3 separate regions of the Homo sapiens genome follow, and regions 2 and 3 are each linked to region 1. The links come from fine-mapping of genetic effects on gene expression. A gene starts in region 1. Each other region holds a variant in brackets. All regions are shown on one strand. Distances are between the middles of the regions. Region 1 holds the start of PTPN1 (protein tyrosine phosphatase non-receptor type 1). Region 2 overlaps RIPOR3 (RIPOR family member 3). Region 3 has its middle 25 kb from the start of PTPN1.

Evidence for each region. PIP is the estimated chance that this variant, and not a neighbour inherited with it, causes the effect.
Region 2: its variant is fine-mapped to the expression of PTPN1 in whole blood (INTERVAL, PIP 0.97).
Region 3: its variant is fine-mapped to the expression of PTPN1 in non-classical monocytes (Schmiedel 2018, PIP 0.95).

Annotation. Positions count from the first base shown.
Region 1 is chr20:50,509,107-50,511,863 of GRCh38, forward strand. PTPN1 (protein tyrosine phosphatase non-receptor type 1) reads left to right here and starts at 1,277. Exons shown (of 10, transcript NM_002827.4): 1 at 1,277-1,484. The coding sequence starts at 1,422. RefSeq lists enhancers at 451-1,038, 1,251-1,350 and a silencer at 911-1,140.
Region 2 is chr20:50,593,417-50,596,173 of GRCh38, forward strand. It overlaps RIPOR3 (RIPOR family member 3), which reads right to left. Exons shown (of 22, transcript NM_001290268.2): 15 at 2,724-2,757; 16 at 1,953-2,088; 17 at 1,137-1,298. Among named protein-coding and RNA genes, the nearest start is that of MIR645, 9.0 kb to the left of the region's middle. The variant C/T (reference allele first, on the strand shown) is at 1,358.
Region 3 is chr20:50,483,578-50,486,334 of GRCh38, forward strand. No RefSeq gene overlaps it. Among named protein-coding and RNA genes, the nearest start is that of PTPN1, 25 kb to the right of the region's middle. RefSeq lists enhancers at 205-254, 295-404. The variant C/CTT (reference allele first, on the strand shown) is at 1,338.

The DNA of each region.
Region 1 (2,757 bases):
AATGCCAGAACTTTTTTTGTTTGTTTGTTTCGCTCTTGTTGCCCAGGCTGGAGTGCAGTGGAGCTATCTTGGCTCACTGCAACCTCTGCCTCCAGGGTTCAAGCGATTCTCCTGCCTCAGCCTCCCAAGTAGCTGGGATTACAGGCATGCGCCACCACGCCCGGCTAATTTTTTTTTTTTTTTTTTTTTTTAGCAGAAACCGAGTTTCACCATGTTGGTCAGGCTGGTCTCGGACTCTTGACCTCAGGTGATCCACCTGCGTCGGTCTCCCAAAGTGCTGGGATTACAGGTGTGAGCCACCACACCCAGCCCTTTTTTTTCAAGACAGGGTCTCTCTCTGCCACCCAAGGTGGAGTGCAGTGGCGCCAAAACAGCTCACTGCAGCTTCCACCTCCTGGGCTCAGGTGATCTTCCTGCCTCAGCCTCCCCAGCAGCTGGGCCCCACCACACCGGCTAATTTTTTAACTTTTAGTAGTGACGAGGTCTGATTCTGTTACCCAGGCTGGTCTGGAACTCCTGGCCTCAAGACATCCGCCTGCCTCTGCCTCCCAAAGTGCTGGGATTACAGATGTAAGCCACCGCGCCTGGGCTCCTATGATTTTTATTTAACATAATGCACCATGGAATTTGTGCTCTGCTTAGTTCAGTCTGAGCAGGAGTTCCTTGATACTTCGGGAAACACTGAAAATCATTCCATCCCCATCCATTCATTCCTGCAGCACCCAAGTGGAAATTCTGCGTTTCAGACAGGGACACTACCCTTAGAGAGCAGTGGGCTTCCCCAGCAGCGTAGTGAAACATGATACTCCTGAGTTTCATGAAAAAAGGGCAGACATCTGGCCAGAGCTGGGAGGCAGGAAATAGAGCACGGTGCCCTCCTCCCATACTCCAGCTTGGATTACTGAGGCTGGGGCCCAGGCCCTGCAGGAAAGGAGGTGCATGACTACTTTAAGGCCACTCACTCTGTGACTCAACGGGCCGGGTCGGGGCTGGAACTCAATGCCCTCCCGGGCCTGGAGAGCCCACGCGCCGTGGGCGGGGCTCCCGGGGTCGCCTAGGCAACAGGCGCGCGCCGCGCCCGAGCCCAGAGCCCCAAAGCGGAGGAGGGAACGCGCGCTATTAGATATCTCGCGGTGCTGGGGCCACTTCCCCTAGCACCGCCCCCGGCTCCTCCCCGCGGAAGTGCTTGTCGAAATTCTCGATCGCTGATTGGTCCTTCTGCTTCAGGGGCGGAGCCCCTGGCAGGCGTGATGCGTAGTTCCGGCTGCCGGTTGACATGAAGAAGCAGCAGCGGCTAGGGCGGCGGTAGCTGCAGGGGTCGGGGATTGCAGCGGGCCTCGGGGCTAAGAGCGCGACGCGGCCTAGAGCGGCAGACGGCGCAGTGGGCCGAGAAGGAGGCGCAGCAGCCGCCCTGGCCCGTCATGGAGATGGAAAAGGAGTTCGAGCAGATCGACAAGTCCGGGAGCTGGGCGGCCATTTACCAGGTGCGGGAGCGCCCCGGAGCGTGGCGGGCCCTTCGCTTAGGCCGCTTGAACATCCCCTCAGACCTCCAGGCCCCAGACTCCCTCTGGGTCTTGCCCTCTGCCTCGCTCCTACTGCTTGAGGATTCGATGGGACAGCGACGCACTGCGTCCCCCCACCCTTTGTCCCCGGGGCGGGCGTGTTTCTCGCCGCAGCGTCGGAGCCCCCTTCGATCCCCCACCTCCCTTCTGTTCTCCAGCTCGGGTGATCTCTCAAGCCGGGGGACCGCCGGTCTGTGCTCTCAACGCGAATCCCTCGCACCCCGACCCCGCCCCCTGCCTGTCCACTCTTTGTCCCCTGGGGTGATTTAGCACCCCCACTATTTCCTTTTCTGGAGTGGACCACCTCAGACTCTCTTCCTTTGTCTCCCTGGGGGAAAAGGTTACTCCCCCCGTCCCTCCTTCACATTTCCTTTCCCCTAGTCTCAGTGTGCGTCGAGTCCCAGAGATGACAGTCCCCTTTCCCCTTTCTGTTCATTCATTTATTGGATAGGAGTTGGCAAGCTTATTCTGTGCTAGGCACCGCTTAGGCATTGGAGGTGGTGTTTGCTAATCAGGACAGGCAAGATCCTAGCCTTAGTGGGGCCTAGAGTCGAATAGGGCAATCAAACACAAAAGCAAATAATTTCAGATAGTGACAGGTGCTGTGAAGAGAACGACTTCCTAACGGGGTACAGGGTGACTGCATAGAAGGCCGGCTGTCTTAGAGAAGGGGATCAGGGAAGGCCTGTCAAAGGAGGAGACATTTGCTTTGTGAGCTGAACCAAGAGGAGCAGAAAGCCGTGAGAATATGGGGCTAAAGAACCTTCTAGCCAGGAGGCCTGCGGTACCCACTCCATTGGGGCCATGATATTATTCTTTCAGGCAGGGACTCAGGAAGGTTAACGTTTTAACCCTCTCTAAAATAGCATCTTTCCTCAATGAGCAGCTTAGTCTTTGGTCGTGGCAGAGATGACCTTGTCTTAGGAGTCATCTCCTTGTGTGTTAAAAAGTTAGGAAAGGAGGGTTTCTCATATATCTATAAAACAAGTAGTTAAAAACACAAAGAGCTCTTCCTTTCACAAGCAGCTGAATAAGATACATACTCCCAATTAAATGTCATTGCGGGGGTTGTTAAGATTAACTAAAACCACACTTGCACAGTATCTTAAATAAGCGATATACAGAATAGAGAGATTTTGTTACTTGTGTAAAGGGAGACAGCAGATGATTCTGTTTTCAGCTTATAGGCTCAAAA
Region 2 (2,757 bases), 84 kb after region 1:
ACAAAATTAGCTGGGTGTGGTGGTGCCTGCCTGTTTCCCAGCAACTCTGGAGGCTGAGGCAGGAGAATCGCTTGAACCCGGGAGGTGGAGGTTGTAGTGAGCCAAGATTGCGCCACTGCATTCCAGTCTGGGCAACCATGAGTGAAACCCCATCTCAAAAAAAAAAAGGGTTTCTGATGGCACGAGGGCAGGTGTCCCTCACTGCATTCCCTGTGCTGTAGGGGAGGAGTGTGCCCAGCTAGAGTCAGGACTGTGACTCCAACTCACCCTGAGTCAGACCGTGTTGGGTTCATCCCCATGCCCTGGGCCCCACACCACACCTGGATCAAAATCCCGGAGGCAGGGCCTGGGAATATGCATGTCAACAAGCAGTCCAGGTGGTGCTTGGAACATGACTGTCACCTTTCACTTGCTCCACAGAGAAAGGCAAATTCTGGGGAAGAACGCAGTCCAGCCAGCATTTCTAGATACCCTCGTGGGCCCCTGCCTGCCTCCCTTCCCATAAGGTTCATTCTTTACCCGTCAGGCTCTGGTGGGAGGCATGGAATCTGTCCCCAGAAAAATGCTCTGGCGGCCGGGCGCAGTGGCTCATGCCTGTAATCCCAGCACTTTGGGAGGCCGAGGCGGGCGAATCACAAGGTCAGGAGTTCGAGACCAGCCTGGCCAATATGGCGAAACCCCGTCTCTACTAAAAATACAAAAAAAGAAAATTAGCCAAGCGTGGTGGTGCACACCTGTAATCCCAGCTACTCGGGAGGCTGAGGCAGAAGAATCGCTTGAACCCGGGAGGTAGAGGTTGCAGTGAGCCATGATTGTGCCACAGCACTATAGCCTGGGCGACAGAGTGAGACTCCATCTCAAAAAAAAAAAAAAAAAAAAATGCACCGGCCCACCAAGTTTGCACGCAGCTTCAGGGCTCCACAGACTGCTCAGAAGGCCCCACGTGGAGGCCCCTTCTCGCCCGGTGAAAGGGCGGTGACTCGCACTGAAGCTGAGAAAGCTCCTCCGTCCGATGGCATGAAGACACAGAGGTGAAGACAGGGCTGAAATGAGGCCAGCTGTGGCCACCCTGAAGGCCCTGGAGACTCAATACAGCCTTTCTGTGGGAGGGGACGACAGGACAGAAGGGAACCCACCTATTTCCAGCTGTCCTGGGTACTTCCCTCTGACTCTGTGCTGGAAGGTTTTCTTGAGCTGGTTCAGCAGCGTCGTGGCAGGGCAGGACAGGACCCTGCCAGGCCCTGTGCACCCTCTCCACAGCTTCAGGCACCCCTTCGTCCGCGAGGCCTGTGGGATGACTGAAAGCCCCAGTTCAGAAACCTGAATGGTGACTCGGGGAGAGCACATGACAAGGACC[C/T]GAAAGGTTTCCCTCCACTAGGACCTGAGGGGGTAGGGAGGAGGGGACGGTGTGGCTTGATGCGAGGTCCCTTCCCTGCATTCCCATGTGACACGTGAGCAACTTTGGCTCTAAGCATCTTACCAGGGCCACCACCTGCAGTCCCCACAACAACCTGGGAGGGGCTGCTGTCACCAGCCTCTCCTTACAGACAAGGAACCTGGCCTTCTGAGGGGAGGTCCCACGGGGCAGAGGCACAGCTGGGATCACAGCTACTGTTTGACGGCACATTCTGCACCTTGAATGTGGCCTGGGGTTACCTCACTGAACCCCGTGCAGTGCCCTCCTCCTATGCAGATAGGGAAGCAGAGGCTCAGAGATGTGAATCATTTGCCTAGAGTCACACAGCTGACTGAAGAGTGTGCTGCAACTCCAGGACTTGTCTCCCTTACCTCCCCACAAAGAGTGTGTATCTCTGAGCCCAGCCCAGCCACAGCCTCCACTCTGGGCCCCGATTAACTCTGGCTATTAGGAAGGCAGAAGAGGCTCCCCGAGCTTTGATCCCGTCCCCGTGCCGCTCACATAGGCAGCCCCTGGGTGGCAGGCAGCTACTTACTCTCTTCAATGGATGTTGCCTTGCCGACCTTCTCAAAGTCAAGGACAGAAAGTGTCTCCAGAACGTGCTTTTGCTGTGCCACTTCTTCCAGGAGGCATTCCTGGACCAGCCTTGATAAATTAGGGGAGGCCAGTTTCTGGGAAGCAGCCCAGATGCTCCAGATTAGCATGGAACATGCCCACCGAGGTCAGCTGTTACGGCTGTGGCTCCCACCTGCTTGTGCCCATCTCTTCTGTCCCGGGGGCAGCTCCCTGACTGTCATTTGGGGATTCCCCTTTCACCAAGGTGGCTGAGCTAATGGGATGCAGGCTGGGCTGCCAGGGACCACCTTTGCCCCCAGAAGGAGGACCAACCTGCCTGAAAGTGAAGCCAACCCACATTGCAAAGCAGAACTGAGAGAGACCTAGTCCTGATAGCATTTGAACCCGTGCATCCAGCCGAGCCTGAAGCCTACCTCTGAGGCTTTCAGTACCATGAGCCGATAAATTTTCCTGTTGGCTGAGCCAGTTTGCATTAGGGTTCTGGCACCTATAAATGAGAGTCACCACCAAAGCCTTTGGTTTAGGGCTTGGCCTGTGTAAGAGCCACACGAGTATTCACCCAGACCCTGGTCTGCCTCTCTTCCACTGGGGAATAGCTTCAGTCTCACGGGCTTCCAGGATGCAGGTCTGTCACCCCTTCATGCTTCCCACCACCTTCAAGATGAGCCTTTGCAAAGAGGACTCCAAACCCCTGTCTGCCCCTCCCTGACAAGTCCCCTAGCCCAGCCACCTGCAGCAGAGCTTTGCAGACTTGGAGGTGTACC
Region 3 (2,757 bases), 26 kb before region 1:
GGTGCCCGGGGCCAGCAACTCCAGTACACTTCCCTTCCCACACATGTGACCTGCCATGCGCACATGAAGCACACAGGCTCTGGGCAGAGAGATGCGGGTGCCGGAGGTTGGGTATACGTCACCAGCATTTATAGAACTGTCCATCTAGCTTCAGGCAGCTCTCTTGAGTGGGCTGAGGAGGATGAGTGAGCACTGATGCTGGCCAGGAAACTTAGGAGAAGGAGGGGAAAGGAAGAAAGGAACAAAACTAACATTTATAAAGTGCAGGGTAGTTGCCAGCCATTAGCACAGTTACTTTCGTTTTCTGATTCCCATTGTACAGTTGAGAAAAACGAGCTCAGAGAGGGAAAGTGACTTGCTCTTGACTATGTGACAGTTAAGTGCTGGAATTCCAGCTCAGATTGAGTCTACAAAGACAGTGTTCTCTATCTCCCTCTTCCTTTTCTCCTTGTCCTCCTCTTCTCTGCTTTTCTCTCCCTCTCCCTCCTCCCCACCACCTTGTTTATTTTTTTTCCAAATAATATTTAGAGTTACCAAGACAGAAGTCAAGAGGAAAGCTTTCTGGTGTCCTTAAAGATGTGCTTTATGAAAGATAGTTTTCATTTGCTCTTTTATTCATTTGACACATTTATTAAGCACCTATGATACGCAATATATAGAAAACAAGACAGACACAATCCTTGCCCCTTAGGCTTTATACTCTAGCAGGAAAAGGAGGCATTAAACAGCTAAATACACATGGCGAGGAGGGGGTAAGGGAAGCCTAGATGGGGAAGTGGGGGAGTGAGATGGGAACAGGAAGGCAGCCATAAAAAGCAATTAGTTGATTACGTTGTGATACAGGTTTCTCAACCTCCGCATTAGTGAAATTTTGACTGGATCATTCCTGTAGGCTGTTCTGGGCATTGTAGGATATTTAGCAGCGTCTCTGGCCTCTACCCACTAGATGCCAGTAGCATTCTTACCCTGGTTTTGACAACCAAAAATGTTTCCAGACATTGTCAAATGGCCCCTGGGGGGCAAAATCACTCCCAGTTGAGAACCACTGTGGTAAATAAGAAAGGCAGATACGAAAACATGTAACAAGGAAACAGAATCTAGGCATACCCACAAGGAAGTGCCTTTAGGACGAGATCCATGTGACAATAGGCATTAGCCAGGCAGAAAGCAGGAATGGCATCCTAAGTAGAGTAGACAGCATGTGCAAAGGCCCTGTAGCCAGACCTGAAAGGATACTGGAGAACAGAGAGTGGCCTGGTGAAATGGGCAGGGCTCAGTTCACACAGGGCCTTAGAGTCTGAGTTATAAATTTTAGCCTTTATCCATGGTCACTTTTC[C/CTT]TTTTTTTTTTTTTTTTTTTTGACACAGTTTCAGTCTTGTTGCCCAGGCTAGAGTGCAATTGTGCAATCTCAGCTCACTGCAACCTCCGCCTCCCAGGTTCAAGCAATTCTCCTGCCTCAGCCTCCCGAGTAGGGATGTGCCACCATGCCTGGCTAATTTTGTATTTTTAGTAGAGACGGGGGTTTCTCCATGTTGGCCAGGCTAGTTTCAAACTCCTGACCTCAGGTGATCTGCCCACCTCGGCCTCCCAAAGTGCTGGGATTACAGGCGTGAGCCACCATGCCCAGCCACTTTTACTTTTAAAATTCATTTCAGCATGGTTAAAATAATAAAAATAAACTAAATGACAACAGACAACATCAAGTGCTGACTAAGATGCAGAGCAACTGGAACTCCCATACACTGGTGGAAATGCACAACGGTAGAGCTTCTTTGGTTGTTTTTTTTTTTCTTTCTTTCTTTCTTTCCTTCCTTCCTTCCTTCCTTCCTTTCCTCTTTCTTTCTTTCTCTCTCTCTTTCTTTCTTTCTTTCTTTCTTTCTTTCTTTCTTTCTTTCTTTCTTTCTTTTTTTGAGACAGAGTCTTGCTCTGTTGCCCAGGTTGAGGTGCAGTGACACAATCTCGGCTCACTGGAACCTCCACCTCCTGGGTACAAGGGATTCTCGTGCCTCAGCCTCCTACAGTACAGCTTCTTTGGAAACAGTTTGGCAGGTTTGTTTGTTTGTTTGTAAAGTTAAACCTACGGTTATCATACAACTCACCAATCCTGGCCAGGCATAGTGGCTTATGCCTATAATCCCAGCACTTTGGGAGGCCAAGATGGGAGGATTGCTTGAGGTCAGGAGTTTGAGACCAGCCTGGTCAACACAGTAAGACCCCGTTTCTATAAAAATAAATAAATAAATAAATAAATAAATAAAGTAAAAATCCCACTTTTAGAAATATACCCAAATGAAATAAAAACTGTTTATTTAATAAAAACACAAAAACCTGTACAAGAACGTTTATAGTGGCTTTATTCATAAAGGCCAAAATATGGGAAACCATCTAAATGCCCCTCTACTGAGGAAAGATTGAACAAACGGCAGTACATCTGTACAATGGAATACTACTCACGAGTAACAAGATGAGAACTCTTTTTTTTTTTGAGATGGAGTTTCGTTCTTATCACCCAGGCTGGAGTGCAGCAGCATGATCTTGGCTCACTGCAACCTCCACCTCCCGTTTGCAAGCAATTCTCCTGCCTCAGCCTCCCGAATAGCTGGGATTACAGGTGCCCGCCACCACGCCCAGCTAATTTTTCTATTTTTAGTAGAGACAGGGTTTCACCATGTTGACCAGGGTGGTTTTGAGCTCCTGACCTCGGGTGATCCACCTGCCTTGGCCTCCAAAGTGTGGGGATGAGAGGCATGAGCCATCGC